Homo sapiens: one gene and its partners. The protein of the gene in region 1 purifies or fractionates together with the protein of each later gene. This does not show direct contact. Each region holds a gene or a part of one and is shown on either strand. Other genes may lie near its edges. The genes, in order: PRDM11, NEK9, LONRF3, ACP1 and GTF2H2C.

Region 1 (6,100 bases):
CGTTCCTGCAGCTCTAGTAGGGCAGGCAGTGTGGACAAGAGAGTTCTGCCATGGCCAGCCCATGACCCCAGGTGTGACCCCACCAACCAGGCCAGCCTGGAAAGGCCATGCTGCTCACACCCGAGGGCTGCCTGCCCATCAGCCAGGACCGACTCAGGGGACAAAGAGAGGCCTGTGCATCAGCAACCTACTCCACAAGACACAATCGAGGAACAGCCTTCTGGGAGGTTGGCGGTGGAAAGGAAGCATACACCTGGATGGCCTCTTTGGTCCTCTAAGGCGTAGGTCCCCAACCCCTGGACCACGGATGGGTACTGATCCATAACCTGTTAGGAACCAGGTTGCAGAGCAGGAGACGAGTGGCAGGCGAGCTAGCAAGCATTAACGCCTGAGCTCTGCCTCCTGTCAGATCACAGGCAGCACTAGATTATCATAGGACGCGAACCCTACCGTGAACTGCGCATGCGAGGGCTCTAGGAGTGTGCTCCTTTGAGAATTGAACGAATGCCTGATGATCCGAGGTGGAACAGTTGATGATCTGAAGTGGAATAGTTTCATCCCCAAACCATCCTCCCCGACCCCGTCCATGGAAAAATTGTCCTTCATGAAATGGTCCCTTGTGCCCCAAAGGTTGGAGACCACTGCTCTAAGCCACCTACTCAGCCATGGCCACCTCAAGTCCACTGCCACCTGGACAGAGTTTCTGTGGCGCAAAGCTAACTACTTCTCTCCCCTGCTTACAAACCACCGACAGCTCCCCCGTGCCTCCAGGGCAAAGTCTCAATTCCTTCACACAGCATTCAAGGCCCTCCCGGCCTGGCCCTCACCTGCCTCTCCCCAGCCAACTCCACTGCTTCTCTAAACACCCATGACCGCTTGCCATTCCTGAACCATGGGGTCCTCCTGTTCCTGCCTTTGCACATACTGTTCCCAGTGCCTAAAATGCCCTTCCCTCTCCCTCCGCCTGGCAAACCCCCGCTCCTCCCTCAAGGTCCAGCTCATCGTCACCTCCTCTGGGAGGCCTAACCAGATCCTCCCTCTCCACCTCCAGGGCGAAATGACTTGCTCTCCTCTGCCCCATATCCATGAGCAAGCCAGGCGCATCCTACCTTCAATCCCAAGACCCAGGCAAGAGCTGCTCAAGAAATTTGAGGTGAAGTGACTTCTTTACTTTTTAAGTTTTCCAATCTGATGCCAACAGATATTTTTGTGAAATAAAATTAAAAATGATGTGGCAATGTCAAGTTGCCAAACAAGTTTCTCAAGGCTTTCTCTCAAAGTCTGCATGTCTCTCACCATACACCCATCCAGCACAGCTCAGGATGGGCAGAGGTCTGCGGACCACGGTCTCCATTGCCTGGCAGAGCCACTGTGCTCCCAGTGTTCCAAGAGGAACCTGGTGCAGGGCCCATCAAGAGTCAGGTGTGTACGTCTGGACCCCAGAGCACAAGGGGCCGCTCCATGAACATCTGCTGACCCAGACAATGGATGGGAAGGTTTGAAAATGCTGTAACATGGCCGGTCCTTATGCTAGGCATCCCCATTCTTCAAGTGGCCGCATAAAGGCACAGAGAGGGTGACCTGCCTGAGCCACAGTGGCTCATATGCTGTACTTTCTTTACACTGCCCATCATCTCAGGGGAAGGAACTTGGAATCTGTAAGTTAGCCATCCAAACTCCTGCCCAGCATGGATGGCTGACCTTATCTCCCACTGCAGTCCCAGCAAGCCAGTCCCATGCTGTGATAAAGAGCTCAGACTCTGGAATCAGACAGACCTAGGTTCATATCCTGGCTCAGCCTTTCATAGCTGTGTGACCTTAGGTGAGTCACCTCACTTCTCTGGGCCTCAATGTTACCTCTGTAAACTGCACCTAATAACACTAGCATCATGGGACAGCTATGAGGGTTGAATGGAACATGCCCGTCCACACTCATTTGGGCTCGGCTGTCGCTGATGTTTATAAAAGGCCCAGGGTCTGGCAGCCAGACACTCTGCCCTGGATCCTCCTTTTCTGCTTGCTCTTCTGGAGACCCAATATCTCCTCTCTGGGGTCAAGAGAGACTGCCGGTTTCCCTGGCTGCTAAGCTTGCTGATTTCCCTTGAGGACTTCACCTCCCTGCCCTCTGCCTCCCTCAGGCTAAGGGGCTTTTCCTTCCTCCCTCTCCACCCCTCCTTGAGGCACCCCTGCACCCCCTCTCCAAATGCAAACCCCCTCTGGCTGGTCTTTCTTTCTCTTGGAACACAGCCGGCCTAAAGAGGGGCACCCCTGGCCCCTGGGAAAATGACACTCTGTTTGGGTTGGAACAGTAAAGGGCTGTGAGGTCAGGGACAAGCCCCAGCCAACCACCTCCCGGCAACCCCCAGAGCCCGCCCTCTCTGTACCTTGGGCCATGACGGTGCTGAGTCCGCCCTGGCTGGGTCCCAGTTGGCTGCTCCCAAGAGAAGCTCACTTCCTTCTGGGGCTGAGGGTCTGGTGGGCTCCTCCCCATGCCCCTTGGCCATCGTGGAGCCTCCCAAGCCGGCCATCTCCATCCCCTGGCATCGGGCAGCCAGATCCTTTCCTGGCCCTCACCCCTTTCCCTTGGGGAAAGTGAGAGATAGTGGGAGAAGCCACTCCGGGAAAGCTGACATTGTGGGGGCGGTTCCATATTTACTTGCTCAGTGACGTCCATACCAGCCCAGCTCAGTGCCCTAGTCAAAGTGATCCTCCTGCCTGCTGGGCCCACTCTCGCCCTCAACTCTGACACAAGCCTGGGGGAAGGCGCCCACCGGCCACTACCCCCCTTTCTACCCCAAGCTCCTTCCAGCCACACTCCCTGCAGTAGCTGGACAATCTCTCTGTTTGGGAAGCAGGGTACAGAGGCTACAACAACACTCTCTGGGGTCCCCATTCTGCTCTGATTCCAGAAGGACTGGGGTGCAGAGGAAGGGGTGCTAGATTTGGGGTTAGAATGTTAGCTTGGTTACTTCCTAAACTGTATGAGCTCTAAGTCACTTCCCCTCTCTGAGCCTCAGTTTTCTGAGCTATAAAATGGGGGTTTTAAGAGCCAACCTGCCTGGGCTAGTGATCAGGGATCGGGAGAAGGTGCAGTTGGGAGGAGGAGAGTTCTGGTTGCTCTTATGGATCGGATGAGGTAGGGGAGACAGGACTGGAAGGGAAAGCTCTAGAAGGCACTGAAGGCTCCAGAGGCCTGGGGTGCCTCACTTTGCAAGCAGGGACCCCCCTACCACTAGCACCAACCCCTGATCTAAGGCTGCTGCTTGGGAGCAGGATGGGCAGCAGCTATCTGCCCCCACCCCTACTCCACTTCCCGTACCCAGTATCATTTCAGCGGAGGCTCCGGGTCTGTTTGAATGTGTCCGCAACTTCTGACCTGTGAGGTTCCTGGGATGGGGAGAAGGTCTGAAACCAACACTCTATAAATCAAATCCTACTTTTATTGATTTATTATTTTTTGAGACAGGGTCTCACTCTGTCTCCCAGGCAGGAGTACAGTGGTGCGATCTCAGCTCATCACAGCCTCGATCTCCCAGGGTCCAGTGATCTTCCCGCCTCAGCCTCCCAAGTTGCTGGGACTACAGGCACACATCACCAAGCCCAGGTAATTTTGTTCATTTTTTGTAAATACAGGGTCTCACTATGTTGCCCAGGCTGGTCTCAAACTCCTGGACTCAAGCGATCCTCCCACCTCAGCCTCCCAAAGTGCTGGGATTATAGGCATGAGCCACTGTGCCCAGCCCAAATCCTATTTTTAAATCACCCAAGAAACCTTCTGGGAATTATTATGTAATACAAATAGGCAACCTCAAAGACTTCCTTTATCAATGTGGTTTTCTTAAGAAGATTGGAAAAATGAGATGATAGCTGTGTGATCTTCAGTTGGTCATGTAACCTCTCTGAGCCCCAAGGTTCCTCATCCATATGTGGATGCGGGAGTAACCTCACGGGGCTGTTGTCAGTGTCCTGGTGCTCCATACATGTTCCTTCTAGGTGTTTACTGCCCCAGAGATAACAGCACCTTAAACTCAGTCCTGCAAACACAGAGGAAAAAATCTTCCACAGAATGTAGGGCAGGACTGATATTACTGAGTCCATTTACAGAAAGGAAACTGAGGCGCAGTTAAATATTTGGCCTTGAACACAAGACAGTGGGGCACCATGAGTGTCTGAGGCTGTGGCCAGATCACCTTTAAGTGCAGATATGCTCATTGTCTTGTATTCAGGCACTGCTGTCCCATCGCCAGCAAGAGGCATGAGAGGACCCCCATGCCTCCCCCATGTCCACTGGCCTCACACCCAGGAGATGGCCCAAGACTGGCCCTAAGCCATTCACTGGTGCTCCGTCTTTCTCCGGAGCTGTCCATGCAGCCCTTGGAGGCCAGTAGTGGCATTGCCCCCGTTCTGCAGATGAGAAAATGGGTAACTCCAAGAGGGACAGCCTCCTGCTCAGATCTCACCGCTATCTGGTGCCAGAAGCAGGACTGAACCTGGGGCCCACGCCCTCTCCAGGGAACAGTGTGGACCCCACCAGCTGGCTCCCTGGCTCCTTCTCAGTTCCCTTTCCCTGCCAAGGGACCAGCCTAAGGCACTTTGCTGGATTTTATCTGCGGGTCCCCTCGCTACTCAGAAGCAGAAGTCAGGCACACTCGGGGAAACAACTGGCCTCCAGAACCAAGCCCCAACCCATCTGCTCTGACCTTCGCTGTAGAGGGCCAAATTCCCCTACTTTTCCCTGGGAATGGTCACTCTCAGCTCTCACCTTCATCCTCTCCTACCTCAATTACTACGAAAGCCTCTTATTTGGCCTCCCTGCCTCCAGCCTTATGCCCAAGCCACTGCTGTTTTTCGGAACATGGATCTGATCACCATGTCAGCTTCCTCCTCATAAAACCCTCTGAGGCTCCCTGTGGCCCAACAGACAGATTGTAAACTCCTCAGCACAGCAGTCAGGACCTGTTACAGCCTAGTCAAGGCCAAGTATCCGGGTTAGGCCGGAGGGCTCAGGAATCAGGTGCCCTGAGTTTGAATTTCATCACCAACTGTGAAACTGTGGGCAAGTGATGCTACCTCTCTGAGTCTCAGTTTCCTAAACTGTAGAATGGGGAAATAACAATACCATGATCAGGGCATCGCTGTGAAGATTTAAAAAGACAAAGCAGATAAAGCACTTTGAACACAGTAAGTGCTCAATTAATTCACTCATTCCACAAGTATTTGAGGCTCTAGTTACCATATGGCATATACTATTCATACAGCAGTGAACAAAAGTAACAAAAAACCCAGCTCTCTGGGAACTTGCATTAAAATGATGGGAGGCAGACAGAAAACAAAATAAAAAAGTAAAACATGGGGCATGGGATAAGTGCTATGCACTAAAAAGAAAAAAGCAGGAAGCAGAGAGAGGGTGTTGGGGTGGGTTGCAATTTTAAACAAGAAAGTACCCATGGCCAGGCCCGGTAGTTCATACCTGTAATCCCAACACTTTGGGAGACTGAGGCAGGTGGATCACTTGAGGTCGGGAGTTCAAGACCAGCCTGGCCAACTGGTGAGACCCCAGTCTCTACTGAAAATACAAAAAATAGCCAAGTGTGGTGGTATGTGCCTGTAGTCCCAGCTACTCGGGGGCTGAGGCAGGAGAATCACTTGAACCCAGGAGGCGGAGGTTGCAATGAGCTGAGATCATGCAACTGCATTCTAGCTTGGGTGACAGAGTAAGACCCTGTCTCAAATAAATAAATAAATAAATGTGCCCATGAGAAGGTAGTATTTGAGCAGAAGTCCTGGGGGAGGCAAGGGGGCATGCCATGGAGATAACTGGGGTAAGAGTGATCTAGGGAGAGGATGCAACCAATGCCGAGGACCAGGATTAGTGTTACTCATACTATTATTGTTATTTTCTTTCCAGCCTCATCCACCTCCATCTCCTCCCCTTACACTTACTCTCTACCCGAATGAACTACTCAAGCCTCCCCAGTCCCTTACATGCATCCATGCTTCTGGACAAGCCATGCCCTGGGCCTGAAGCCTCTCCCCTCCTGTGCTATCCAAATCCTACTCACTCTCCAAAGGCCAACCTAAAGGCCTCCTCCTCAGCGAA
Region 2 (6,100 bases), on another chromosome or scaffold:
TTGAGATGGAAGGCTGCTTGACAGTTACAGAAATTCAGTAGCCCTGTGGGGTCCCAATCTGGTCATTTTATAGGAGAGGTGACAGAGTACTGAGGTAATATCTAGGACTTCCAAATGCTCATATCTTTTTACAGCTAACTAGACAGGACTGGAGAAGGTGGGGTGATGCATGTGTGGGGTCACAATGGATGTGTGTAAAACCTGAAACCTCAACCCTCAGTTTCTGCCACAGCCTTTCCAGGAGAAAAGGAACAGCTGGGAATCCCATTGAGGATGGTCCCTAGAAATGCATAATAATTTAATTTTTAAAATATAAATAAAAACTGGTTTGGCTAAAAGTTCCCAAGGAAAGAAAAAAAAAAAAGAAAACAGAAAACCCAAAACACTGCTAACAATAAATGGTATAGCTGATTTAGCCAACCCTCCAATGGGTAAGCCTGTGCCCTAGGGTAGGTGGGAGAGATGTGACTGTGCTTTTCCCCCAGCTGGTATCAGCCTCTGTGAGCCTCTCACAGGGCCAGCTCTGGCAAGGCTGAGAGTAATTAGATAATATGTTTCATGCAACATGACCGCTAAACAAAAACAACTATTAATATTTCATCTGGTGGTCAACTGTAGAAACAGGAGAGGAAAATGGCTGTGTTGGGTTAAGAGACAGTATACTGCTTTACAGTATCTTCTCGAGTTTTCCAGGGTATTTGTAGCTATATGTGACTTTTCTGCTGTACACGCTGATTTTAGCTGTCATCCCTGAGTAAGATGTGACTTCACAATGTCCACAGTCGCTGTATCCACTTTCTCAATTTTCTGTGATTTGGTCAGATGACAAGACCACAGGGTGCTAAATCAGGAATCCTAAATTGTCAGTCTCCCAAACAGGAAACACTTCGGAAATAAATACCTTGATACAACAGAGCCAAGGAAAGAGGACATATTATTGGAGTCTGTGCGACTTAAGATAGGTTTTAGAAATAAGTTGCTTCTGATTTTACCTTTTGTGGTGTATAATAATCCTCTTCTGAATCCAAACCCAGTCGTCCTGAAACACACATAAGAATGAAAATCATTATAATGAGGGCTTCCTTCCCAGTGAATAGGTTCTGTAAGATTCTCTTTTGCCAGGTGCGGTGGCTCACACCTGTAATCCCAGCACTTTGGGAGGCCGAGGCAGGTGGATCATGAGGTCAGAAGTTCGAGCGAGACAAGCCTGGCCAGTGTGGTGAAACCCCATCTCTACTAAAAATACAAAAAATTAGCTGGGTGTGATGGTGTGTGCCTGTAATCCCAGCTACTCGGGAGGCTGAGGCAGGAGAATCACTCGAACTCGGGAGGTGGTGGTTGCAATGAGCCCAGATCATGCCATTGCACTCCAGCCTGGGTGACAGAGAGAGACTCTGTCTCGAGAAAAAAAAAAAAAAAAAAAAAAAAGATTTACTGAATTAACACTTCTCATTTAGGGGCTGCATGATGGGTTTAGATGCATACAACTTTGAAGTCAGGTTGTATACCTGTGAAGAAGTGGACAGAGACAAGGCTACCCCTACCATATTCGCCACAGCCCCAAGAATAGACTTCCTTGTTTCGTGTCAGAACCACCACATGATTATCTCCACAGGAGACCTGCTCCACTGGATTGCTGAGGAAGAAGTTCAGCTGCATGGGTTCTAGCACTTCAGGGCCAGCAACTTTGTCCACCCCCATGCAGCCATAATAATCTGATCCGAAGGCATAGAGCTGACCCTCATCTGCAAAAGAAAGGAAAACAGAATCCATCAAAGGACTGACTTATTTTATCTAATCAGAAAGTTGGGCAGGGCTGGAATGAGGACTACCCCAGCAAATGATCTCACATGAATTGATTATATCCAAGAAATTAAAAGGACAGACTGTGCAAGTCTAGAGTTCTATGTCAGAGAGTCATGTGTACTACTACTACTATATTAAACAATTTAAAAAGTGGTAGCATTATCACATTAAAAGGACTTAAAATTTTAATGGGGCCATCTTTGTTATATAGATAAAAAAATAAGTCCCAAGGAATCATTAACTAAGTAATGACAAGACCAAAACTAAACTTAGGTCTTGATCCTAATTTTGTGTTATTCATAGCCTGATGAGGTGGTAAGATTATTTTTCCTGCCAACCACGACACACATTTTCTCCTGATCCCACCTCTTCTCTGTTACCCACCTGTCTTCTCCTTGCTCACCACCCCCTAATACTATAGCAAATTTGGTATGTTATTATTAATGAGTATATTTGCTCAAGGTCCTCTGGTTCTTTGTATACTGTCTTTTGTTTTAAAATCCCAACTAAGATTGCACAGCATTAAGCAAAATACCCCCACATTAAATGCACTTAAGACACTTTCTGCTGATGGCTTACCAGTCACACAGACAGTGAAATCATCACCACATGACACCTGACGGATAGCTTTGCCTTGCAACTTTTCCACATGCTTTGGCTGTCGATAGGAGGCTTTGTCTCCATGGCCCAGCTGACCATGGAGTTTAGTGCCTCCTTGCATGTTCTGTGAAATAAAGAGGTCTTATGACTTTTTTTTTTAATTACATTTTATTAAACTTAAATTTTAAAGAGATGGGTTCTCGCTATGTTGCCCAAGCTGGTCTTGAACTCCTGGGCTCAAGTGATCCTCCTGCCTCGGCTTCCCAAAGTGCTGGGATTGTAGACATGAACCACCATCCCCGGCTGAGAGGTCTTATGAAGTTTTAATTTTTCATGCCAAAAGCTGATCTTTAATGGAACTTCATATGAAGAAAAACAGTAGAAAAAAAGAGCTAGAAATTTAGAAATTAGAAAAAAATGGGCAAAGGGATTAAACATTTTAATAGCAAGTAGTATACAGATCCTGCCAACAGGTAAAGAAAACTTAAAAAGTATCCAGATTAATATCCATTAATCTAATCTTTGTCCTTCAAGTCTAAGGTAAACTATATATTTAATTACAGGTGATGGTGAAAAAAATTCTTTATAATATAGTCTAACTTTGTTGCTTTCTACAGGAATATAGCTTCTTGAAAATCTGTACTAGAAGTTTCATAAATTTTGGTCACAGTTTCCCTGAAACATGGAAGAGTTATAAAGAATCTGGCTACATCAAAGAGGCTGCTATACAGCAATGAGACTAGTCCTTGATGACTTTTCAACTTTTTTTTTTTTTTTTGAGACAGAGTTTCGCTCTTGTCACCCAGGCTGGAGCGCAGTGGCTCGATCTCAGCTCACTGCAAGCTCTGCCTCCTGGGTTCAAGCGATTCTCCTGCCTCAGCCTCCCAAGTAGCAGGGATTACAGGTGCCCGCCACCACGCCTGGCTAATTTTTTGTATGTTTAGTAAAGATGGGGTTTTGCCATGTTGGCCAGGCTGGTCTCGAACTCCTGACCTCAGGTGATCCACTCGCCTCGGCCTCCCAAAGTTTTGAGATTACAGGTGTAAGCCACCATGTCTGGCCTTTTCAACAGTTTTATAGAGAAAAATAATTCTATTAAATGAGTATACTACAAGTCCTCATATTTTATATATATATGTGTGTGCGTGTGCGTGTGTGTGTGTGTGTGTGTGTGTGTGTGTGACAGTATATATATATATTTTTTTTTTTGAGACAAGGTCTTGCTCTGTCACTCAGGCTGCAGTGCAGTGGTGCAATCTTGGTTCATTGCAATCTCCACCTCCCAGGCTCAAGTGATTCTCATGCCTCAGCCTCCTGAGTAGCTGGAATCACAGGCATGCGCCACCACTCTCAGCTAACTTTTGTATTTTTAGTAGAGATGGGGTTTTGTCATGTTTGCCAGGCTGGTCTCAAACTCCTGGCCTCAAACAATCCACTCGCCTTGGCCTCCCGAAGTGCTGAGACTTCAGTTGTGAGCCACTACGCCCAGCCAATAAATGTTTAAGATACTAATTTCTCTCCAGCAGCCTGAAATGAGCCTGAGAACGCATAGCAAGAGACAGGAGGAAAGCCAAGAGAACATGCTATCACAGAAGGCAAGTAAAGACAAAGCTTCAAGAAGGAGGGAGTGGTCAACTATGTCAAATGCTGCCGAGAGGTCAAGCTAGGTAAGGACTAAAAAGCATCTGTTTTATTTTAGCAATTTATGGGTCATTTTGTCAAGACTAGTTTCAATTGAGTGGCAGTGGCAGAGATGGAAGCTGCATTGTAGGTGAATGAAGAGAGAGTGGGAGATAAGGAAACAGACAGCAAACACAGACAATTTGTTAAGGAAGGTGAGAGGGGAGAATCTAGAGGGCAACAAACAAATTCTACACAAAATATACCTAGCCATCTTCAATCACTGCTGTGGGCTTCAGGGGTTTCCTGACATGGTATAGTCCTTCCTTTGTTTACAAAGCTATTTCACAGGTAATAGTTGCTCTGAACCTCATGGTAATATAACAGAGTAATTGAGTGACTTGTCTGAAATCATCCAGCTGTAAATGGGAAACCCCAGTCTCCTGAGTCTTTCAATTTTTCTCTCCCTCTCTCATTCATTCATTCAAAAAACATTTATAGGTGACCTAATATGTACCAGCCCTGGGCATACATCAGTGAACTAAACAGACAAAATCCCTGCTCTTATAAGAGCTTCCATTCCATCACCCCATGTTGCCACTCCCTTAGTATAGGTTCAACTAATAAAATGCTTAGACATCGTGGGCCCAGTAAACAATTAGGCTTACAGCACTGTTCCAAAATGCTTAGCGTTCACTTACCACCCAAGTGTACAGTTCCTTCTCCACTGTGACCACAGCAAAGTGGGTATTCCCTGCACAGACCTGCCGGGCACTACAGCCACTCTTGATAACATCCAGTTTCTGGGGGGTGGATTTTCCACCACCCCAAACATAGACTTCACTGGTTCGTGATGTTACTACAGCAATGGGTGCTTCAGTCACAGTGCTTGACCTGCCAACAACCCCCAGAACAAAGGAACATTTAACATTAAAAACAATATCAAAGAAAAATGCTTCCAGTCTGTTCCCTGAGAAGAACTGCCAATTATGGTATGAGAAAGTATGTTCTTTCTCGACAACTTGTTTCAATGTGCTCTATCACAGCAGACTTTGCAATTCCTGCCTCAGGGCTTCATCACAGCTTGGCCAGATCAGATTCCAGTCTGACCCATAACACCTACACTTTTCCACATTCATCATGGTAATGATGGCCACTTTAGTGTGAGGGTGAAATTATAGCTTTCTTCTTAGAAATGACTGTCTGACATTTAAGCAGATGCTGGCTCCTGAAAGGATGCCAAAGTATCCTCGGATCAAATAATGCCTACACTCAAGAAAGAACCCCCTGGTTGTAATTTCGGATATATTAGTTTTTAAGAGTCTCTTGAACATTACCTTGGTCTCTTTGTAGGTGCATTAAGCAGAGTGACTTTTTCCTCCATCTCTCTACCAAAAGAAAAGCAAAGATACATGAGTGAAATAATAGGTTTTTATATTGCAAAGGTGTCTGTTTAATACATTTCACAGATTTAATCCTCTTATAAACTGTATGCATCCTACAACATCACAATACTTTTAGCAAAGTACCTCAATACAACTCAAAACAGTTATATAGTCCTTTCATTAGACAATTCATTAAATACCCAAAGGCCAGCAGTTTGGGGCCATTTGCTTTCTGTCTCTGAGAAATGGTCCAGGCTGGAACAGAGAGCCTTGAGAACCTCTGATGTACATATTTAGTATCTGATGGACACCTTCATCTAGTCTGCCCACTGACTCCCAAACTCAGTATCTCCAAATATGAGCTTGTTAGCTTTTTCCCAAATGAGCTTTTCTTTCTGACTCCTCTATTTCTGTAACTAGCCGCAACACCCTTCCCCAATTCTCCCAGTCAACTGGGCTTAAAACCTCAGTCATCTCTGATTCATCTCTCTCCCTTTCTTTAATATTCAGGTTCTACAGATTCTACCTATATAGTACTTTTTGTACTCACCTCTTCCTTTCCAGTCTCACCACCTTAGTTCTGGGTAGCTCTACTTCCCACCTGTACTGTGATAATACCTCCTAATCAGCCTCACTTACTACAGTCTTAATCATTTTACTATACTAATTTAACACAGATACTAATATTG
Region 3 (6,100 bases), on another chromosome or scaffold:
AAAAAATACAAAAATTCGCTGGGCATGGTGGTGCATGCCTGTAATCTCAGCTACTCGGGTGGCTGAGGCAGGAGAATCGCTTGAACCCGGAAGGCGGAGGTTGCAGTAAGCCAAGATCGTACCACTGCACTCCAGCTTGGGTGACAGAGTGAGACTCAATCTCAAAAAAAGAAGTCCATGAGGTAAGAACTCAAGTTATTAAATTATTCTCAAGCTACAGATAAGGAAACTAAGGCCCAGAAAGGTTAAATGACCTGCCTAGGGTCGTGAAGTAGACTCACTTTGAGGTAGAACTGGGTCTTAAGCCCGGTTCTGGTTGACACCAAAGTTCTTAACCTCATAGCAACTCCTTATGTATCTGAAAACAATCTTTTGGACATTTCGTTAAGTTCCCCTGTTTATGCTACTCCAATTTACTCTTGCCAACAATACCCTGTTACTGGGGGCAGGGCGTACCCTCATCACTGGTTTCGCTTATGCTTCTTCAGTGGTATGCTGGTATGTTTAACAACTGGCTCTCTGGGTGCAGCGGAAACCCTGGTTTGTAGCACTTGCCAATTTCCATGGTGTAAATACTCTCACCATAGCCAATTTCAAGCAGCTAGCATGACATCACTAAGTCGGAAGCTGGGAAGTAATGTGCACATTCAGCTCTCATTGAGCTGGTATGAGTGAAACAAAACAGAAATATGCATATACATACTTAGAAAGTTCTTCCATTTCCTCTTCATAAAGCTTCCTTCGTTCCTTCAGTTCTTCTGGAAGGAATTTAGCTATGAGCTCCTCCATTATTACATTTTTGCTGTATTTTCTTGATGCCAAGCACTACATGGGGGGAGGCAATTAGACAATATGCAATTAGGTAATACGTAGCAATCAGCAAAACACTTCTGATGTAATCAGTGAACAAGTCAAATGACCCACATATTGGAGTAATCTGGACCCACAAATTAGCAGCTGTTACCATCATAATATATGTATTTTCTGGATGTTAGTTTCATTTAAAAAAACACACATGCAATTGATTATCTTTATAATTAGAAAAAAATTTTTAACAAGGGGGTAAAACCTGCATTGAAGTTTTAAAACTCTCACAGTTTTTCTGAAACACTGAAATCAAGATCATGTTCTTGTCCAAAAAGTAGGGTGGGGGGAATTCTTCCCTTTCCATTTTCTGATGATTGTATTTACAAGCTCACAGAAATTGTCTCCATCTGGGATATGCTCAAAGTTAGTGGCCAAAAGTTTCAGGGAACTAAAAAGCAATTTTCAATCACTGAACCTTTCCTGCCCTGTCCCACTCCCAGCCTAACCCAATGCTTGGCTTCTGGATATTGCCAAATATACCTATTTTTTCTCTTTTAATTTTAGTTTAAAAAAACACAAACAGCTAAATATTGATTTGTCTATTTGCCTTTCTAATATACCATCTAGGTATCACTGAGATTAAAAGTCATGATTTCAAGAACTGGACTCAGGCTCAATTGTCACTGTTACTCTCCTCCCAAACACCCCTGTCCGATGCATACCCAGGGATGTTTAGGTAGTGGGTATTTAACGGTGTGAATCAAACAACTGATGTTAAAACATCTGCAGAGAATTGCTTGCTATGGAAACTACCCCTACAGTCCCAGCAGGGGGAGCGCCTGAGTATAAAACTGTTGGCTTCAAACAATTTTGTTCCTTTCTCAGTATGGGCTGTGTCTCTATTCTGCAGTGAAAATGATTGGAATATTTAATTCTATGTAAAATGGTGCAAGTGTGACCCTATGTGAATAAACAGAGATAGATGAGAATATCTTCTAGACCCCAAGTCCTGAACTCTATAGCATCTGTCTCCAGGATGCCTTATCTGCCACTGTCACTGCCATTGCCTGGCTATGGGAAAATCAACTGCATTTCCCAGTCCCAGTTGTGGGGGATAAGCATTGACTGAGGAGGTAGTCAGTCTAAAAAGTAGGTGACTCCTCTGCTGATACTAAAACAAAAAGCCAGAAAAGGCACATACTAAAATGTTAACTAACAGTGGTTTTCTCTAGGTACTGAGCATATGGGTAGATTTTTCTTCTTTCCACTTAATCTGAATTTTCCAGTGCTACAACAACACAGATGTATTATTTCAGTATAAGGATCAAGGACTTCTCACCTACAATCAGGCCTGCAAATCCTACAACTTTATCCAGGGAAAGGTATGACATTGACCCTCCTCCCAATCCCAACGCATACCCTCAGGGCTACCAGTGATGATGATTTCACTCCATTCCCTTAATTTAAATACTGGGGTGATGGTAAAGCTCAACATGTGACTTCTCTTGACCTGTAGTCACCTAGAGATAGCCTTGCATCTCCAACCTCTCCTCAGGAATGACAGGGGTCAAGGAACATTAACACCGATTGTAAAATGTGGCAGATAAGTCCCTGAGGGAGGGAAAACAAGATAGATTCTCAGGTCTTCTTTATCTGTAGGAAATTCCTTCAGGTTCACTTGAAAAACAAAGGTGGGAGTTTGTGTGATTAGTTTTAGAGAACCTGGAAGTCCTAGAGGGCTGCGGTCTGCAAAAGCTCTAGGGCTTCCAGGTACAGTGGCTCCTGATGGGTTGGACAAGGATCACACTGAAGTTCTGTGAGGTTCTTCTGGGGCCTTTGGAGCTGTTATCTTCAAGCCACAGAATAAACACTGATGATAAGGGAACATCAGGGCTTACCTAGTCCAATCCTAGAGGGGACAAAAGATTTACTCAAGATTACAGTGTATCAGGTGCCACGATGACATTAGAACCAGGATCCAAGTTTATCATCTATTTAATACTTTCGTTTCCAACACAAATTAATTTCCCTACTTACACTGCATAAAAAGCTGCATGTTGCCTCATTTTCCTGAAGGACTTTATGGAGAGGGGGACAGTGGCTATAAGACAGGAGAAATAGGCTGGGCGTGGTGGCTCATGCCTGTAATCCCAGCACTTTGGGAGGCTGAGGTGGGTGGATCACCTGAGGTCAGGAGTTCGAGACCAGCCTGACCAATATGGTGAAACCCCATTTCTACTAAAAATACAAAAATTAGGCCGGGCGTGGTGGCTCACGCCTGTAATCCCAGCACTTTGGGAGGCCGAGGCGGGTGGATCATGAGGTCAGGAGATCCAGATCATCCTGGTTAACACGGTGAAACCCCGTCTCTACTAAAAATACAAAAAATTAGCCAGGCGTGGTGGCGGGCGCCTGTAGTCCCAGCTACTCGGGGAGGCTGAGGCAGGAGAATGGCATGAACCCGGGAGGCGGAGCTTGCAGTGAGTGGAGATCACGTCACTGCCCTCCAGCCTGGGCGACAGAGCGAGACTCCGTCTCAACAAAACAAAACAAAACAAAACAAAACAAAACAAAAATTAGCCGAGCGTGGTGGCATGCGCCTGTAATCCCAGCTACTTGGGAGGCTGAGGCAGGAGAACTGCTGGAACCCAGGAGGCGGAGGTTGCAGTGACCCGCGATCACGCCACTGCACTCCAGCCTGGGTGGGAGAGTGGAGACTCAGTCAAAAAAAAAAAAAAAAAAAAAGAAGACAGGAGAAATAGATGGTTTGAGGGAGTAATGTGCCCTACCACAGTGCCGTGGCTGGGGGTCCAGTTGAACACTGTCTTAGTGCCCAATTCCAAATAAACTAAACAAAACAAGAAAGAAATACTGATTTAAACCAAACAAGAAAGAAATATTGATTTACCTGTGAAAGACCGTCTTTGCACAATGGACACTTTGCGTTGTGATCTAGGCATCTTTCTAGGCATTTTAAGCAAAAAGTATGCCCGCAAGGTGTTGTGACTGGCTCATAGAATAATCTGAAATTTAGGAATCAAAATGGAAGAAAACTGCAATAAGACCAAAAATAAAAGAGTGACTCAAAGCTAAGTTTTTAAAGCATTATTTAGAATATTTTAGGGTGGGGGAGGAGTTCTTTTTAAAAAGTCGCTATTGTTATACTTCAGATAAACATTTGCCTTTCATTTTTGAGCTGGATTAAAATACATTTATTAAAGTTTAGGGCATAGCTAGATCATTTTGTAACATCAATTCTAGTCTATCTCTTCTGGGGAATTCAGATTTTTTGCCCTGTCTGGTCCAAGAAAAATAGAGATTAATGCACAGAGTGTCTGGATAAATTCCATTCCGAAAATATTTAGCCAACCTGTTCACCTGAGTATATGTAAACACACACACACAAACACACACACACGCACACACATTCTCTCTCTTACACATTTACCCATTTAAGCACTTTACATCATATTACCATGGAAAAAAACCGTTTGCTAACCTTGATTCCTCTTTTCGTCTAAGCAATGTTAATGCCTGAAGGATATCAAAATTGTACCTCTAACAAACATAACTGCCTTTTATATAGATAATTTTCATAGGGGCAGGAGAATAGTATTGTTAGTGTGCTTACTGATATAGACTAGATATGGATCTATATTGATGCATATACACACATATATACATACATTTACATGTGTACATACATATATATACATACATATACTTCAATTTGGTACTATTTTAATTGCTTGGGGAGAACAGGATATTTTCAAAGCAATGTGGGAATCCTTTTATAAATTTGTTCTGTACCTTCAGAAATTAATGGATTTGCTTTGCTTAAAAAAAGGCTCACCTGCAGCGAGATCAGTGAGTGAGGGTAGCTGAAGATGACCGTTGAGGAGTGGGGCTTGCACTCACCAAGAGGAGCAGCACAGGAAGAAGGGAAAGACCCCTGCCTGACCAGCCTATTTTCACCTCACAAGAGTGTTCAGTGGAGAGTCAGAGGCTGCCAGCTGCACGGCTCCCTCGTGTGGCCAGGAGGTGCACCAGCAGCCTGGCCAGCACTGCCAGACTGAGTAGAAGAAGCAACATGCCAGCTGAAAAGTACTTGAGAAGAAACTGAACCCACTAACTAGAATGAACCTGAGGTCCACAGGGGTTGAAGTTACTTGTCTAAGTGCGCACAGCCAACTGTTGACAGATGAAAGTCTATCCAACTTCCACTTCAGTCATGTGCCTTTTCTATTACAACAATAATTCTCAACCATTGCTGTGCATCAGAATCACCTGAACAGCTTTATCTTTAAACAGCTTTACTGATGCAAAATTGACATAAAATAAATGGAACAGACGTAAAGTGTACAATTTGATAAGTTCTGACATATGTACACACTTATGAAACCATCGCCACAATCAAGATAGGAAACATACCCATCCCTCCCAAATGTTTCCTCATGCCCCTTTGTAAGCCCTCCTTCCTGCCTCCCCCAGTCACCTGGGGAGCCTATGAAAACTCTAGATGCCCACTACAGCACCTACAGAGATTCAGATCAGTAGGCCCAGTGTACAGGACAGGCATCAGAAATTTTTTTTAAGCCTCCCAGTGGTTTTAATGTACAGCCAAGATTGAGGATCACTGTGTTACACAATCCCATTAATCTCTGCATAGGCAAACTTACTGTATTGGTCTTCAAATATCAGTTACGTGTGGAGCAAAAAAACCCATACATTGTGAAGCTCCACTGGCTAAAGTTCCAGATTCAGCAGGTCAAGGAGACCAGCAGAAATGGGATATTTTTAACAAGCCAATGGAGGTCTGGAGGAGGAGAGAGACTTTTCATGTATTCAACTTTTTGGTACTTTTTGAATTTTATGATTCTGTTTAAAAAGTAGTTAATTTGTTTAACAAATTAATTAAAACTAATAAATTTTAGTTATCAAATTGGCCAAAAAGCAAAGTTATTTAAAAAAGAAAAACTATTTACTATGGAGGTCTCAGTGCACTAAGGCAAGAAAAAAAATGAGAACTGGAGAGGAAAAAAACAAATCTGTCATTATTCACAAATGATATGATGGTGAACTTAGAAAAATCTAAAAGAATCTACAAATGATTATTAGAATAAGAATGGAATTAACAAAGTTACTAGATAAATACACACACACGTGCACACACAATTATAGTTCTATATACCAGCAATAGACATTAGAAATGTCATCATCTTAAAGATAACATTTGCAACTCCTTTTAAAAATCAAGTGTCCAGGAAGAAATCTAACAACAGTTGTAGGAGAC
Region 4 (6,100 bases), on another chromosome or scaffold:
TTCAACTAGTCTAAGAATGCTTAAAATACCCCATAAGCTGTCTGAATCAAAGATTTTTATTGATTCTCCTGCCAAACACAACTGATTTCCATCTACAATTACTTTTTAAGGTAAGAAACAGTAAGTCAACTGAACAAAGAGCTGGGCTTTGGGCCCTGGAACGTGATTACACACCGACTGAGAAATGCAGGACCTCAGGGTGGGGTCTAGTCAGGCTGGCCGCAGCAGGGCACGAACCTGCCTCAGTGGGCCTTCTCCAAGAACGCTCTGCAGCACCTGACACACTGCTGGTACACCGTCTCAAAGTCAGAGTCATTCCCCTAAATGGACAGGAAAAAGAAGAAAATGGCAAAACCTGCATAACAAAAACATCCTTAACACAATCTCATCTGTTATTTAATATGGCAGGATACAAATGTGTTGGGTCTTCATATTAGCCCTAAAACGTGAACTGTACTTACATAATAGGGATCTTCAATAATAAGTTGTTTTTGTGGATCATAGCTCCCAAGTAGTTCAATTTTAGCTTTGCAGGTTTTAACTTGATTACTTTTTCTATTCAAATCTCTGTAAAATTGAAATATGAACTTAGTTTTCTGATCTATGGTTTCAAGTTAAACAGGGACATCTGCTAGGGTGTTCTGAAACATCCATATCAAAATCAAGACAGAATGACCTAATTTGAAATGAAACGGAACACTCAGCAGGCCCGTGTGGCCCCTTCTGCAGCTGTATGCCACTGCCCTCTCTCTAGGCAAGACAGTTTGCGACAGCAGCTTATTCTCACTGATTCTGTTACACAAAATATACAATAATTATATTTTCTCCCACAAAATACATTTTAAGACAATCAAGTTTCAGAGATAAAGGTCATAGAAAGGAACCCAAAACACCATCTGAACCAGTCCCAAAACAGAGGGCTACCAATTCCATCCTCAGGTGTCTTGACACAGCACTTCCCACAGCACGACCCACTCCTTAATTACTCTTCCATCTTTTATTCCTTAAGCCTCTGCCCAAGCTGAAAACTCAGCTTCACTCTAGACTTCCACCCTTAGCTTTCACATTGCTACAAAAGAAAAAGGCAAACTTAACTAAGCGCCTCCATTTATTTAACAAATTTCGACTGAGCACCTGCGACAGATGAGTTGATGAGTCAGGTACGTGCTTTATGTGGGAACGGAACAGCCAAGAGCTCCCATGCACGAAGTTTTACAGCTCAGGATTAGGTGCAGGAATGAGAACTGCAGGCAGGCCTAAGTCTAATGCACAATCTGGCCTAATGACAGGGCAGCAGAATACCTCTATCAAGAAATGAATTTAAGCTGACCCACGAGGGGCAAATAGGAGCCGAATGACCCAAGAAGCAAGGAGGAGCTTCCAGGCAGAGGAACAGCACGTGCAAATGTGAGGCTGCAGGAACTCCACTTGCCCCACACGCAAAGAAACACGGTGCTCAGTGCCAGTCAAAGCAAATGGGGTCTCCTAAAAAGGTGTTTTTACGATGCCTATGGGCTATGGTGTCAGCAAAAACAATGAGAACAGAATAAGGACTGAAAAATAAAAATTAAAAAATACATGCATTTTAATGAAGGTCCTAATTAATAAAAAATAATTGAAACTGGTGCATCCCTATCTGTTCATTTGTACAAAAGTAATTAAAAGCACAAATAGTTTATCTTCATCAAAAACATGAGATATTTATGAATAAGTAGTGATGCAAGTCAGAATCCTGGAGTGACATTAAATTATGATCCGTTCCCGATGACGCCTTGAACATGGGACTGGGGCAGGTCAGGAGGGTGGTGACTGAGGCAGGGGTGCATACAGCAGGGCCCTTCCTCACTGAGCCTAGGCTTAAATCCCATGACATCCACCACATGCTAGCTGTGTGAACTCGGGGACATAACCTAACATTACCGTTTCTCACTTCCTTCTTTTACAAGATGGGATAATAATAGGAACCTATGGTTGCAGAGCTTTGACCTGAGAATCAATAAAACACTGCCCTGCCCAGGAATCATTACAGCAAAAATATCAAAATCGTTCTCATGCAGAACAATATGCTTGATACAAAACTATAACAGCCAAGCTAGTTTTCCAATTAAATCATGCTATTAACAACTAGACTTTCCCTTTTCTAAGGTGTATTTCCTTGTAAATACCTAAGAGACAATTCTAGATTACTAAGTTTTTTGCTGTTCTAAATAAAATAATTCTACATATGGTGACCATCACTGACTATTAAAACCTTTAAAATAGAAAAAGTAAATCTGGACAACAAATTACTTGGCCCACTGCTGAACTGAGAGTTGAACAGAAATATTCTTCAAAAACAGGATTACCTCAGATTGCTTTCATCCATACATAGTATATAATCAAATGTGGCAAAATCTTCTTTGGTAATCTAAAATTGAATAAGAAGTCAAAACACAGTGTTTATACCATTCAAGCCTAGAGGATGCAAAGCAATACTAAAAGAAAAAAAAAACTGCTGTATTTGAGCCTGTTACTCACTAATAAACAATTAAATAATTTTTAGGGTACTTTTAAGTTAAAATAGAGTTAACCTATTTCTCAAAATTGTACTGCAAAGAAATTTTGTATTATAAAGTTCCATACAATAATCATAAAATAGTATAATGTGTAGACACAATGTTTATACATCGGCTTCAATTCCTTAGTAGCAGTGTATAATACAGTCAACATACTAAAATGTCACATATTTAATCCCCTTCATTATTCTACTCTATTTTTCATTCCACAAGCACTGAACATCCTGGGCCCCAGTAACAAACACCAAGCTAAGTGGACAGAGCCGCGTCCCATGGAGCTGCCCTTCCACATGGGGGCAGGCAACACACAGGAGGCACAGATGCCCTGGAGGAAATAAAGCAGAGAGGAGATACATACAGCTTTGGGGCAGGGAGGAGTAAAAGTATTAAGTTGGGTGGTCAGAGGTGGTCACTAAGAAAGAAACACAGGAGTGATAACTGACAGTCCTCCTTTATTTTGATTGACTATCCATAATTTAAACCTCACACAGAAGAGAATGCCACTCAGTATTTCTACTGATTGTAACCTGAAAGCTTATGATTGTTTTCTGATATAATCTATAAACACACCTACTTAAAATACAAATGAAAAGATTATTTTGTGAATTTCGACTACTATAAATAATGGCAGAATAAGAAACATAAACATACGTACTGCGGAACAAAGGTGGAAAGTGTATACCTGTTCTTCTAAAAAATGAGAAACTTTGGCTTTTAGTATGCACTTCCAGTAGCTAGAAAAGACTGTATTTCGTCAACACTCCCATGACATTGACTTATTTCAAAATTGAGAATAAGTACAATACTGAATTTTTTCTTTTTGTTTTTAGAGAAAAGGTCTCACTCTGTCACCAACACTGGGGTACAGTGGTGTGATCATAGCTCACTGCAGCCTCAACTTCTTGAGTTCAAGCCAACCTCCTACCTCAGCCTCCCAAACAGCTGGGACTACAGGCATATGTCATAGCACCCAGCTAATTTTTAAAATTTTTTTGGTAGAGATGGGTCTCACTATGTTGCTCAGGCTGGTCTTGACCTCCTAGGCTCAAGCAATGTTGAGCCTCCCAAAGTGTTATTAGGATTATAAGTGTGAGCCACCATGCCTGAACAGTATTATATTATTTCTCCAAATTAGTTATGTGAGAAATTCCCTAGGATTTAATACTAAACTTGTTTTAAATTCTGGACTAATTGTAAATTTTTCATAAAAAAAGACTTAGTAACTGTTACATAATTTTTAGATGTTACAATAATTGAGAAAGAAACAGCTATAACTTATGTAACAAATGCACAATAAAGGATTTCCACTTGCAGCTATAAATGAAACAGCTTGTGGCAAATCACCCCTACTACTAAAAACAACTAGAAACGCCATATAAAAAACCAGTGCTGCAGAGACAGTCGGGCTTTGTGGCCACCAGGCCGCTCTGGCTGTGCTGCTCTAGCACAAAAGCAGCCGCGAACTACAGGTGAATGAGTGAGTCTGGCTGTGTTCCAACAAACACTGTTCATAAAAAAGGTGCCTCAAAAAAAGGTGCAGGCCCCAATCTGCAGACTCCTGCCACTTGCCACTTCTCTTCCTGCTAAAACTGGAAAGTGATGAGACCTCAGAACAGGGATCTCAAACGGTTCAGTAGCAGAACTCTTGAACTCTGTAAAATTATTTAAATCCTATGTTATGGTTTGGATGTGTCCCCCAAAGTTCCTTTGTTGGAAACTTCATCCCCAATGCAACAATAGTGAGACGCAGGATCTTTATTAATGCCACTATCTTGGGAGTGGGCTCCTGACACTGATGGGTCCTCTCTCTCTCTCTCCTCTGTTTCCCTCTTCCCGTTTTTCTAGTTCTCGCTCTCACTCACTCTGGGGCACTCTCTTGACTCCTCCACCTTCTACCACAGGACGATGCAGCAAGAAGGACTTCACAGCCCCATGAGCCCCTTGGCTTTGGACTTCTCCAAATAAATGTATTTTCAACAATGGCCAGTAGAAACTGGCAAGGTATGCAAATCCTGAAGAGATGAGGATGGATAAATTGTATAAAAATGTTGAATCACCTGACCAATGAAGATTCCATTTCCGAAAAGGTCAGTCCCAGAGTACTTCATTTAAATAAAGAACTCTTAGAAAAATCAACTTTAGCTTCTAATTCATAATATAAAGACAAGGTTATCTTCAATTGAAATTGCAGAATTTGATTGTGACTTTATTAGACTCCAAACTTAAGTGTGGCCCAATAGACTATAATTATATATCCATAATGTTGCTGGTATTACCCTATATTACTAAGGCACTTTACAGTTGAAAAAATGTTTTTGTATATATTATATAACCTCATTCTAGCAACAAACTTGCAATATCAGCAGGATGATTACTATGGCCTAAATGTTTAATAAAAATTATGCAGGAAGGAACAGAAGACAGAGCACCGCTCAGCCCCAGCTCACAGTCAGGCTCTCTCATTATAAATTACCTAGCTTTTATGTGCATTTTAATAAGTAAATTCCAAAGTCAGGCAAGTCTTTCAACACCGTGCAACCAGAAGTGAAACAAAATGGACACACCATAGCTGGTTAAGCTCACCCTAAATAAACACATTCATTAATATACAAGTCTGGTTAATCCTTTCGCTACTTCTCAAGTTACTGGACTCTATATATTAGAAATTGAACAAGAGCTTGTCTACCTGTCTTGCTTTATGGGCTGTGTGAATGCCATGATTTCTTAGGCAGCTCACAGCTCTTGGGTCTGGGGACCGGCCCACGTTCCAGTCAGAAACAGCACCGCTGTCAATGACCCACTGAAACACAAAACACACAACTTCAAGTCCAAGGACGGTACCTGCCGGGCAACGTGGCTCATGGGAATGCCGTGCCTCTTCATGCAGCTCTGCCCTCGGTAGTCAGGGGGGTTCCCTATCTCATACCCGGAAGTTGCCGCGCTGTCTACCCTCCACTGCAGGGGAAGAAACATGGAATTTTTTTTTTTTTTTTGCAATTTCCTGCCCAGAGGAGTTCAGGTTGGCCTCTTTAAGATAATGAATGGTACTTACATTCTCTGAGATGTTTTGATCGGTTACAAGTTTCCTGAAAACTGCTTCTGCAATGGGTGATCGACAAATGTTACCTTTAAAAAAAGGGAGGGGTGGGGAAACAGGGTTAGGTTGGATGGAAGGGCACATGCCAGCTCCCCTTCTTTACACACCTGACACACGGGGGCTGTGCTATCCCTCAGGAAAAACAAAGGCCAACACTATCCTTTGACGCCTTTGTCCAACCAGTGAGGGTAGACCCTGCTGGAGAACAGCCTATCAGGCTCAAGTTCAGTGATTTGACACCAACCAGCCAAGTACTCCAAGTACAGATGACAAAGATATCAGAAAAACAATTTCAACAAAAATTATTGTTTAAAGAGTTGCTACTAATGATCCAGGAGTGAATCACGAAAATGAAGTGGGTTGCAACCAGCTTATTTTAAAATGAAATACAACAGAATAAAAATAAAATACAGTGGTCTGTCCCTCAGTAGACTCAGGAGCTGGTTCA
Region 5 (4,866 bases), on another chromosome or scaffold:
ATTCAGTCAGGTGAAATCAATAATTTAGATCCCATCAGGATCCCAGCCGAGTCCCCAGTCCATCTTGTAACACTTCTCCCCAGAACATACTTAAATTACCTGGAAATAATGAATCCTCTGCCCTTACAGAACTGGATCCAAAGCAGGCACTAGGGCACTCTAAGACTACTTCTCAGAAGTGTGACAACCTCCTGTACCCTTTTTCTCCTTACTACAGGGCCCAAGGACTGAAACTTCTTACCTTTTCTCCTAAACTCTGCCACCCACTAATGGCCTCAGGACTGGGATTCCACTAACCCACTCCCCAAGGGCTGATTGCACCCTTTCTTTGTCACCACTCATGAAATCATTTCATGCTATGAATTGGCCAACCGTTCTAGAGATATAGCTGAACACAGACATGACCAGAAACATGAGGAAGTTATAAAGTATTGAGAAATCCTTCTAGAAGTAGATGCAATGCCACACCACTGAGCACGAGATCTGGCTTCCTGAGCAGTTACCAAAGGACGAGATGACACAGCCCTGTGGGCAAACTAGGATCAACGGGAAATGGAAGAACTTAGGAAACTAAGTTACTTCTCCTTCCTCCCTTCAATGGACTGCTCAGAGGGGCAGTTTCTCCTTATAAACCTTCTGGAGAAGCCCCACACTCTAAGTGAACACACTTGCTGGAAGGCTCCTGTATCTCGTCACAGCTTGTCATGAAGCCTGGTCACTGCAGTAACACAATGCATCACGTTTTTCCTTGCTTTGCTTTCCCTTTTCTTCCACACTCTCACCCCCCTAGATCTGTCCCTCCCTAATAAAGTAACAATACTTTCATCTTTGCCTCAGGTTCTACTTCCTAGGGGACCTAAGTTAAGAAATTCTTGTTGTTGACCAGGCGTGGTGGCTCACGCCTGTAATCCCAGCACTTTGGGAGGCCAAGGCAGATGGATCATGAGGTCAGGAGATCGAGACCATCCTGGCTAACACAGTGAAACCCCGTCTCCAGTAAAAATACAAAAAATTAGCCAGGCGTGGTGGCAGGCACCTGCAGTCCCAGCTACTCGGGAGGCTGAGGCAGGAGAATGGCATGAACCCGGGAGGTGGAGCTTGCAGTGAGCTGAGATCGCGCCACTGCACTCCAGCCTGGGCGACAGAGCGAGACTCTGTCTCAAAAAAAAAAAAAAAAATTCTTCTTGTTGTAATTTATTGTTGTTGCAATTTTTGTTTGTTGTAATTTCTAGGGTAACCACTGAAAGAATAAAAACAAAGTATACAATTTTCAAACTAGTGACGAAAAACATAGAATGGTAGAAAGTAAGTAATCAAAAAGAAGGCAAGAAGGAAAAGATCGTATCAAATATGTAGTTAAAAAAATTTAAAAAAACGAAAGATGGAATTGTTGGAACCAATAACACAAAGATAATAGACTTAAACCCAAATATATCAGTGGTAATCTTTTAATAAATATTTATATTTATTATATATATTTATATATTTTAATATATAATATATTAAAATATATATTATATATAAATATATATAAATATATAAATATAAATATAAATAATATATTTATAAATATAATATTTATAATAAAATATATCAGTGGTAATCTTTTAATAAGTAAATATATTTATTAAATATAAAAGGTACACAGTAAATATAAATGAACTAAATGCTTTAGTTAAAAGACAATAAAAATTATGAAATAAAAATGTATACACTTGAAAGTATTTAAAATAAATCTAATTTTCATAATGAATTTTAAGCATTAAGGAGTTTTGTAACTGAATAGTGGAACTCAGAAAGACATCCTATTCAGAAGGATCTCTCATGATAATAGTTTCCTTCACTATTGTAGTATACTGTAGAGTTTCAAGAAAAAAATTAAAGGCCAAAACTGTCTTACATTACCATTGCTGTTTCTGCAATCTTCAACAAACCAAAATTTTCTCTGTAATTGTGAAAAAAGAACTCCTCCTTAAGCATAACTAAAATTTTGCCTTAACCTTATCAAATACCCAAAACTGTAGAAAGAGATAAAGCTGTTAATAGAGACATGGGTATCCCTTTTTATCAGGTCAGGAGGGTAAGTCTCTAATAGAGAGTTCTAGTAACTTCTCAAAAGGTAACTAATGAAGGCCTTCCTTCTAAACCAGATAGGGGGAGATAGAATGCTCTGAGTATTAAAGGCATCTCCTGCAAGCCACTGATACCTTTGTTGACAGAGCACACAGAAGAAAATAGCAGTTACCAGGTTACCTATAGGTGAAATTTGTTTCCACATAAAGAACCACTGGGTCCAGGCTCATGGAGTATGACTCCTGAGAGAAACTCCCGTTACTCTGATCAGTGTGTGTGTGTGTGTGTGTGTGTGTGTGTGTGTGTGTGTGTATTAAAAATGAATATTCCTGGGCTCCCAATAAACTCTCCAGGGTGGGATTACGTTGTCTTTACTGATAATGTTCTTAACTAAAAATTCTTAGTTATAAAATCACAAATTTCGGCCGGGCACGGTGGCGGAGGTGGGTGGATGACCTGAGGTCAGGAGTTGGAGATCAGCCTGATCAACAAGGTGAAACCCCGTCTCTACCAAAAATGCAAAAATTAGCCAGGCGTGGTGGCAGGCGCCTGTAGTCCCAGCTACTCAGGAGGCTGAGACAGGAGAATGGCTTGAGCCTGGGAGGCGGAGGTTGCAGTGAGCCAACAGCAGGCCACTGCACTCCAGCCTGGGCGATGGAGCAAGACTCCATCTCAAAAAAAAAAAAAAAAAAATCACAAATTTCATAGTGAAACTCAAGTTAGAGTACCTGAAGTTTATATACATAAAATAGACATACCTTTGCTATGAAAGCCTGATTTACTCTTTTTTTTTTTTTTTTTTTTTTTTTTCTTGAGACAGAGTCTAGCTCTGTCGCCCAGGCTGGAGTGCAGTGGAGCGATCTCGGTTCACTGCAAGCTCCGCCTCCTGGGTTCACACCATTCTCCTGCCCCAGCCTTCCGAATAGCTGGGACTACAGGCGCCCGCCACCAGGCCCAGCTAATTTTTTGTATGTTTAGTAGAGACGGGGTTTCACCGTGTTAGCCAGGATGGTCTCGATCTCCTGACCTCGTGATCTGCCCGCCTCGGCCTCCCAAAGTGCTAGGATTACAGGCGTGAGCCACCGCGCCCGGCTGAAAGCCTGATTTACTCTTAACTGGATATAACCAGAAAGAGTTCTGCCCACAATGATATATCTGCATTGAATCTAAAACACAGACTTCATCATACATTCTCACCTAAATTTCTCTGATGACCCAGAGTAAGGCAAAAGGTTTAGCATATGAGAGTGAAAGGATTTGAATCTCACTTTCTGTCAAACTTTAGAGCTCTGTTAACCATGGTTAGTATCAACTATGATTTTAGGCAACTTTGCTTATAGTAAAAATAACTCGTTAATTGTTACGTATCTGGATTGGGATGCACTATAAATAAATGGAGTCTTCAAGCTTTAGGCTTTCCTGAGTGTAGTGACTCTTGAAATTGACACATCCCTTGTGGATACCTGGAAGCTGTGTTTATGGAATTGTTAAGAGATATTGGTTCCTTGATGCCTGTGGAGGATCTTATCTCCTTGCACCCAAATTGTACTAGTGGACTGCTACAAGGACTTCCACTGCTAATGAGGACTGCTTGATGCTGTGCTGGCAGGCTGTTGTTTCTGTTTAATATCCTTCTGAGTAAGCGGGTACCAAGTATGGCCATGGCAGTCTTGTGAGTTTGAATGTTTAATGTAAAGTGACTTCTGTTGGTCATAGCCACAAATAATTTCAGATGTACTAACTTGATAAACATATTCCAGATGTTTGGTTAAACCTAAAAAGACCTCTCTGGTGGATGTAGCAGTACATCATTTCATATGTATTAATTTCATAACTTTTTTTTTTTTTGAGAGGGAGTCTTACTCTAGGGTGGAGTGCAGTGGCACAATCTCGGCTCACTGCAACCTCCGCCTCCTGGGTTCAAGCGATTCTCCTGCCTCAGCCTCCCAAGTAGCTGGGACTCCAGGCGTGAACCACCATGCCCGGCTAATTATTTTTTGTATTTTTAGTAGTGACGGGGTTTCACCATGTTGGCCAGGCTGGTCTCGAACTCCTGACCTCAAGTGATCTGCCCACCTCAGCCTCCCAAAGTGTTGGGATTACAGGTGTGAGCCACAGCGCCCAGCCTAATTTCATAAGTATTGATAAATTTTCATCTTACACTGAATTTACATTCAGACTTAACTTTCTTCTTACACTAAATTAATGAATTAACATAAATCATAAAGATTCTATATTTAATTATAAAAACATAAAATTATCACATCAATTTAATTCTTATAAGTTTATACATACTGCATAATGACTTTGAAAACAGTATAACTCAAAATAATAGAAAACAAAATTAATTGAATGAAGTACTACTGAATTTCAGGTATTTCTGTGACAACACAAATTTAAAATTTAATAAAATATTACCTTTTCTTAGCAAAAAGTTTCTTAAGTCAGATTATCCTTTCATGTTTTAAATGAAGCTTCTTCTAAAGAAGTCCTTTTATTCACAGTTGCAAATTTCTTTTTAACACATACAATGTATACTACATGCTGGAATCAAACACCTGAAGGAGCTGGAATCTTATGAATACAGCCAGGGCAACAGTGTAGAGAATCATGAACAAAAACATCACAGTCCACACAGAAAACATTTTGGCACACAGCACAAACATAAACCTGTAGTGAAAAGAAGAAAAGTGATAAACTAGTTTCCAAAAGTTAATTACAGCACAGCTAGATGACATTCAAGGTGTGCTTTGCTCTTTTATATCTCTACCAATTTTTTCCCACTACCTACTT

The links.
Region 2: the proteins of PRDM11 (region 1) and NEK9 purify together in Homo sapiens (affinity purification with mass spectrometry; one large-scale study listed by BioGRID and IntAct). This does not show direct contact.
Region 3: the proteins of PRDM11 (region 1) and LONRF3 purify together in Homo sapiens (affinity purification with mass spectrometry; one large-scale study listed by BioGRID and IntAct). This does not show direct contact.
Region 4: the proteins of PRDM11 (region 1) and ACP1 purify together in Homo sapiens (affinity purification with mass spectrometry; one large-scale study listed by BioGRID and IntAct). This does not show direct contact.
Region 5: the proteins of PRDM11 (region 1) and GTF2H2C purify together in Homo sapiens (affinity purification with mass spectrometry; one large-scale study listed by BioGRID and IntAct). This does not show direct contact.

The regions. Positions count from the first base shown.
Region 1 is NC_000011.10:45,151,715-45,157,814, reverse strand, and holds part of PRDM11 (PR domain-containing protein 11), read right to left. Parts: intron 1-6,100.
Region 2 is NC_000014.9:75,104,958-75,111,057, forward strand, and holds part of NEK9 (serine/threonine-protein kinase Nek9), read right to left. Parts: intron 5,415-6,100; coding exon 5,364-5,414; intron 4,921-5,363; coding exon 4,728-4,920; intron 2,531-4,727; coding exon 2,386-2,530; intron 1,746-2,385; coding exon 1,545-1,745; coding exon of another isoform or gene 1,509-1,544; intron 1,040-1,508; coding exon 993-1,039; intron 1-992.
Region 3 is NC_000023.11:119,003,851-119,009,950, reverse strand, and holds part of LONRF3 (LON peptidase N-terminal domain and RING finger protein 3), read right to left. Parts: intron 3,831-6,100; coding exon 3,716-3,830; intron 826-3,715; coding exon 704-825; intron 1-703.
Region 4 is NC_000002.12:271,447-277,546, reverse strand, and holds part of ACP1 (low molecular weight phosphotyrosine protein phosphatase), read right to left. Parts: intron 5,682-6,100; coding exon 5,608-5,681; intron 5,511-5,607; coding exon 5,397-5,510; coding exon of another isoform or gene 5,242-5,396; exon of another isoform or gene 5,066-5,241; intron 2,408-5,065; coding exon 2,346-2,407; intron 568-2,345; coding exon 462-567; intron 321-461; coding exon 243-320; 3' UTR 1-242. UniProt on the Homo sapiens protein: Acts on tyrosine phosphorylated proteins, low-MW aryl phosphates and natural and synthetic acyl phosphates with differences in substrate specificity between isoform 1 and isoform 2.
Region 5 is NC_000005.10:69,591,956-69,596,821, reverse strand, and holds the end of GTF2H2C (general transcription factor IIH subunit 2-like protein), read right to left. Parts: intron 4,744-4,866; coding exon 4,624-4,743; coding exon of another isoform or gene 4,611-4,623; 3' UTR 1,601-4,610; downstream 1-1,600. UniProt on the Homo sapiens protein: Component of the core-TFIIH basal transcription factor involved in nucleotide excision repair (NER) of DNA and, when complexed to CAK, in RNA transcription by RNA polymerase II.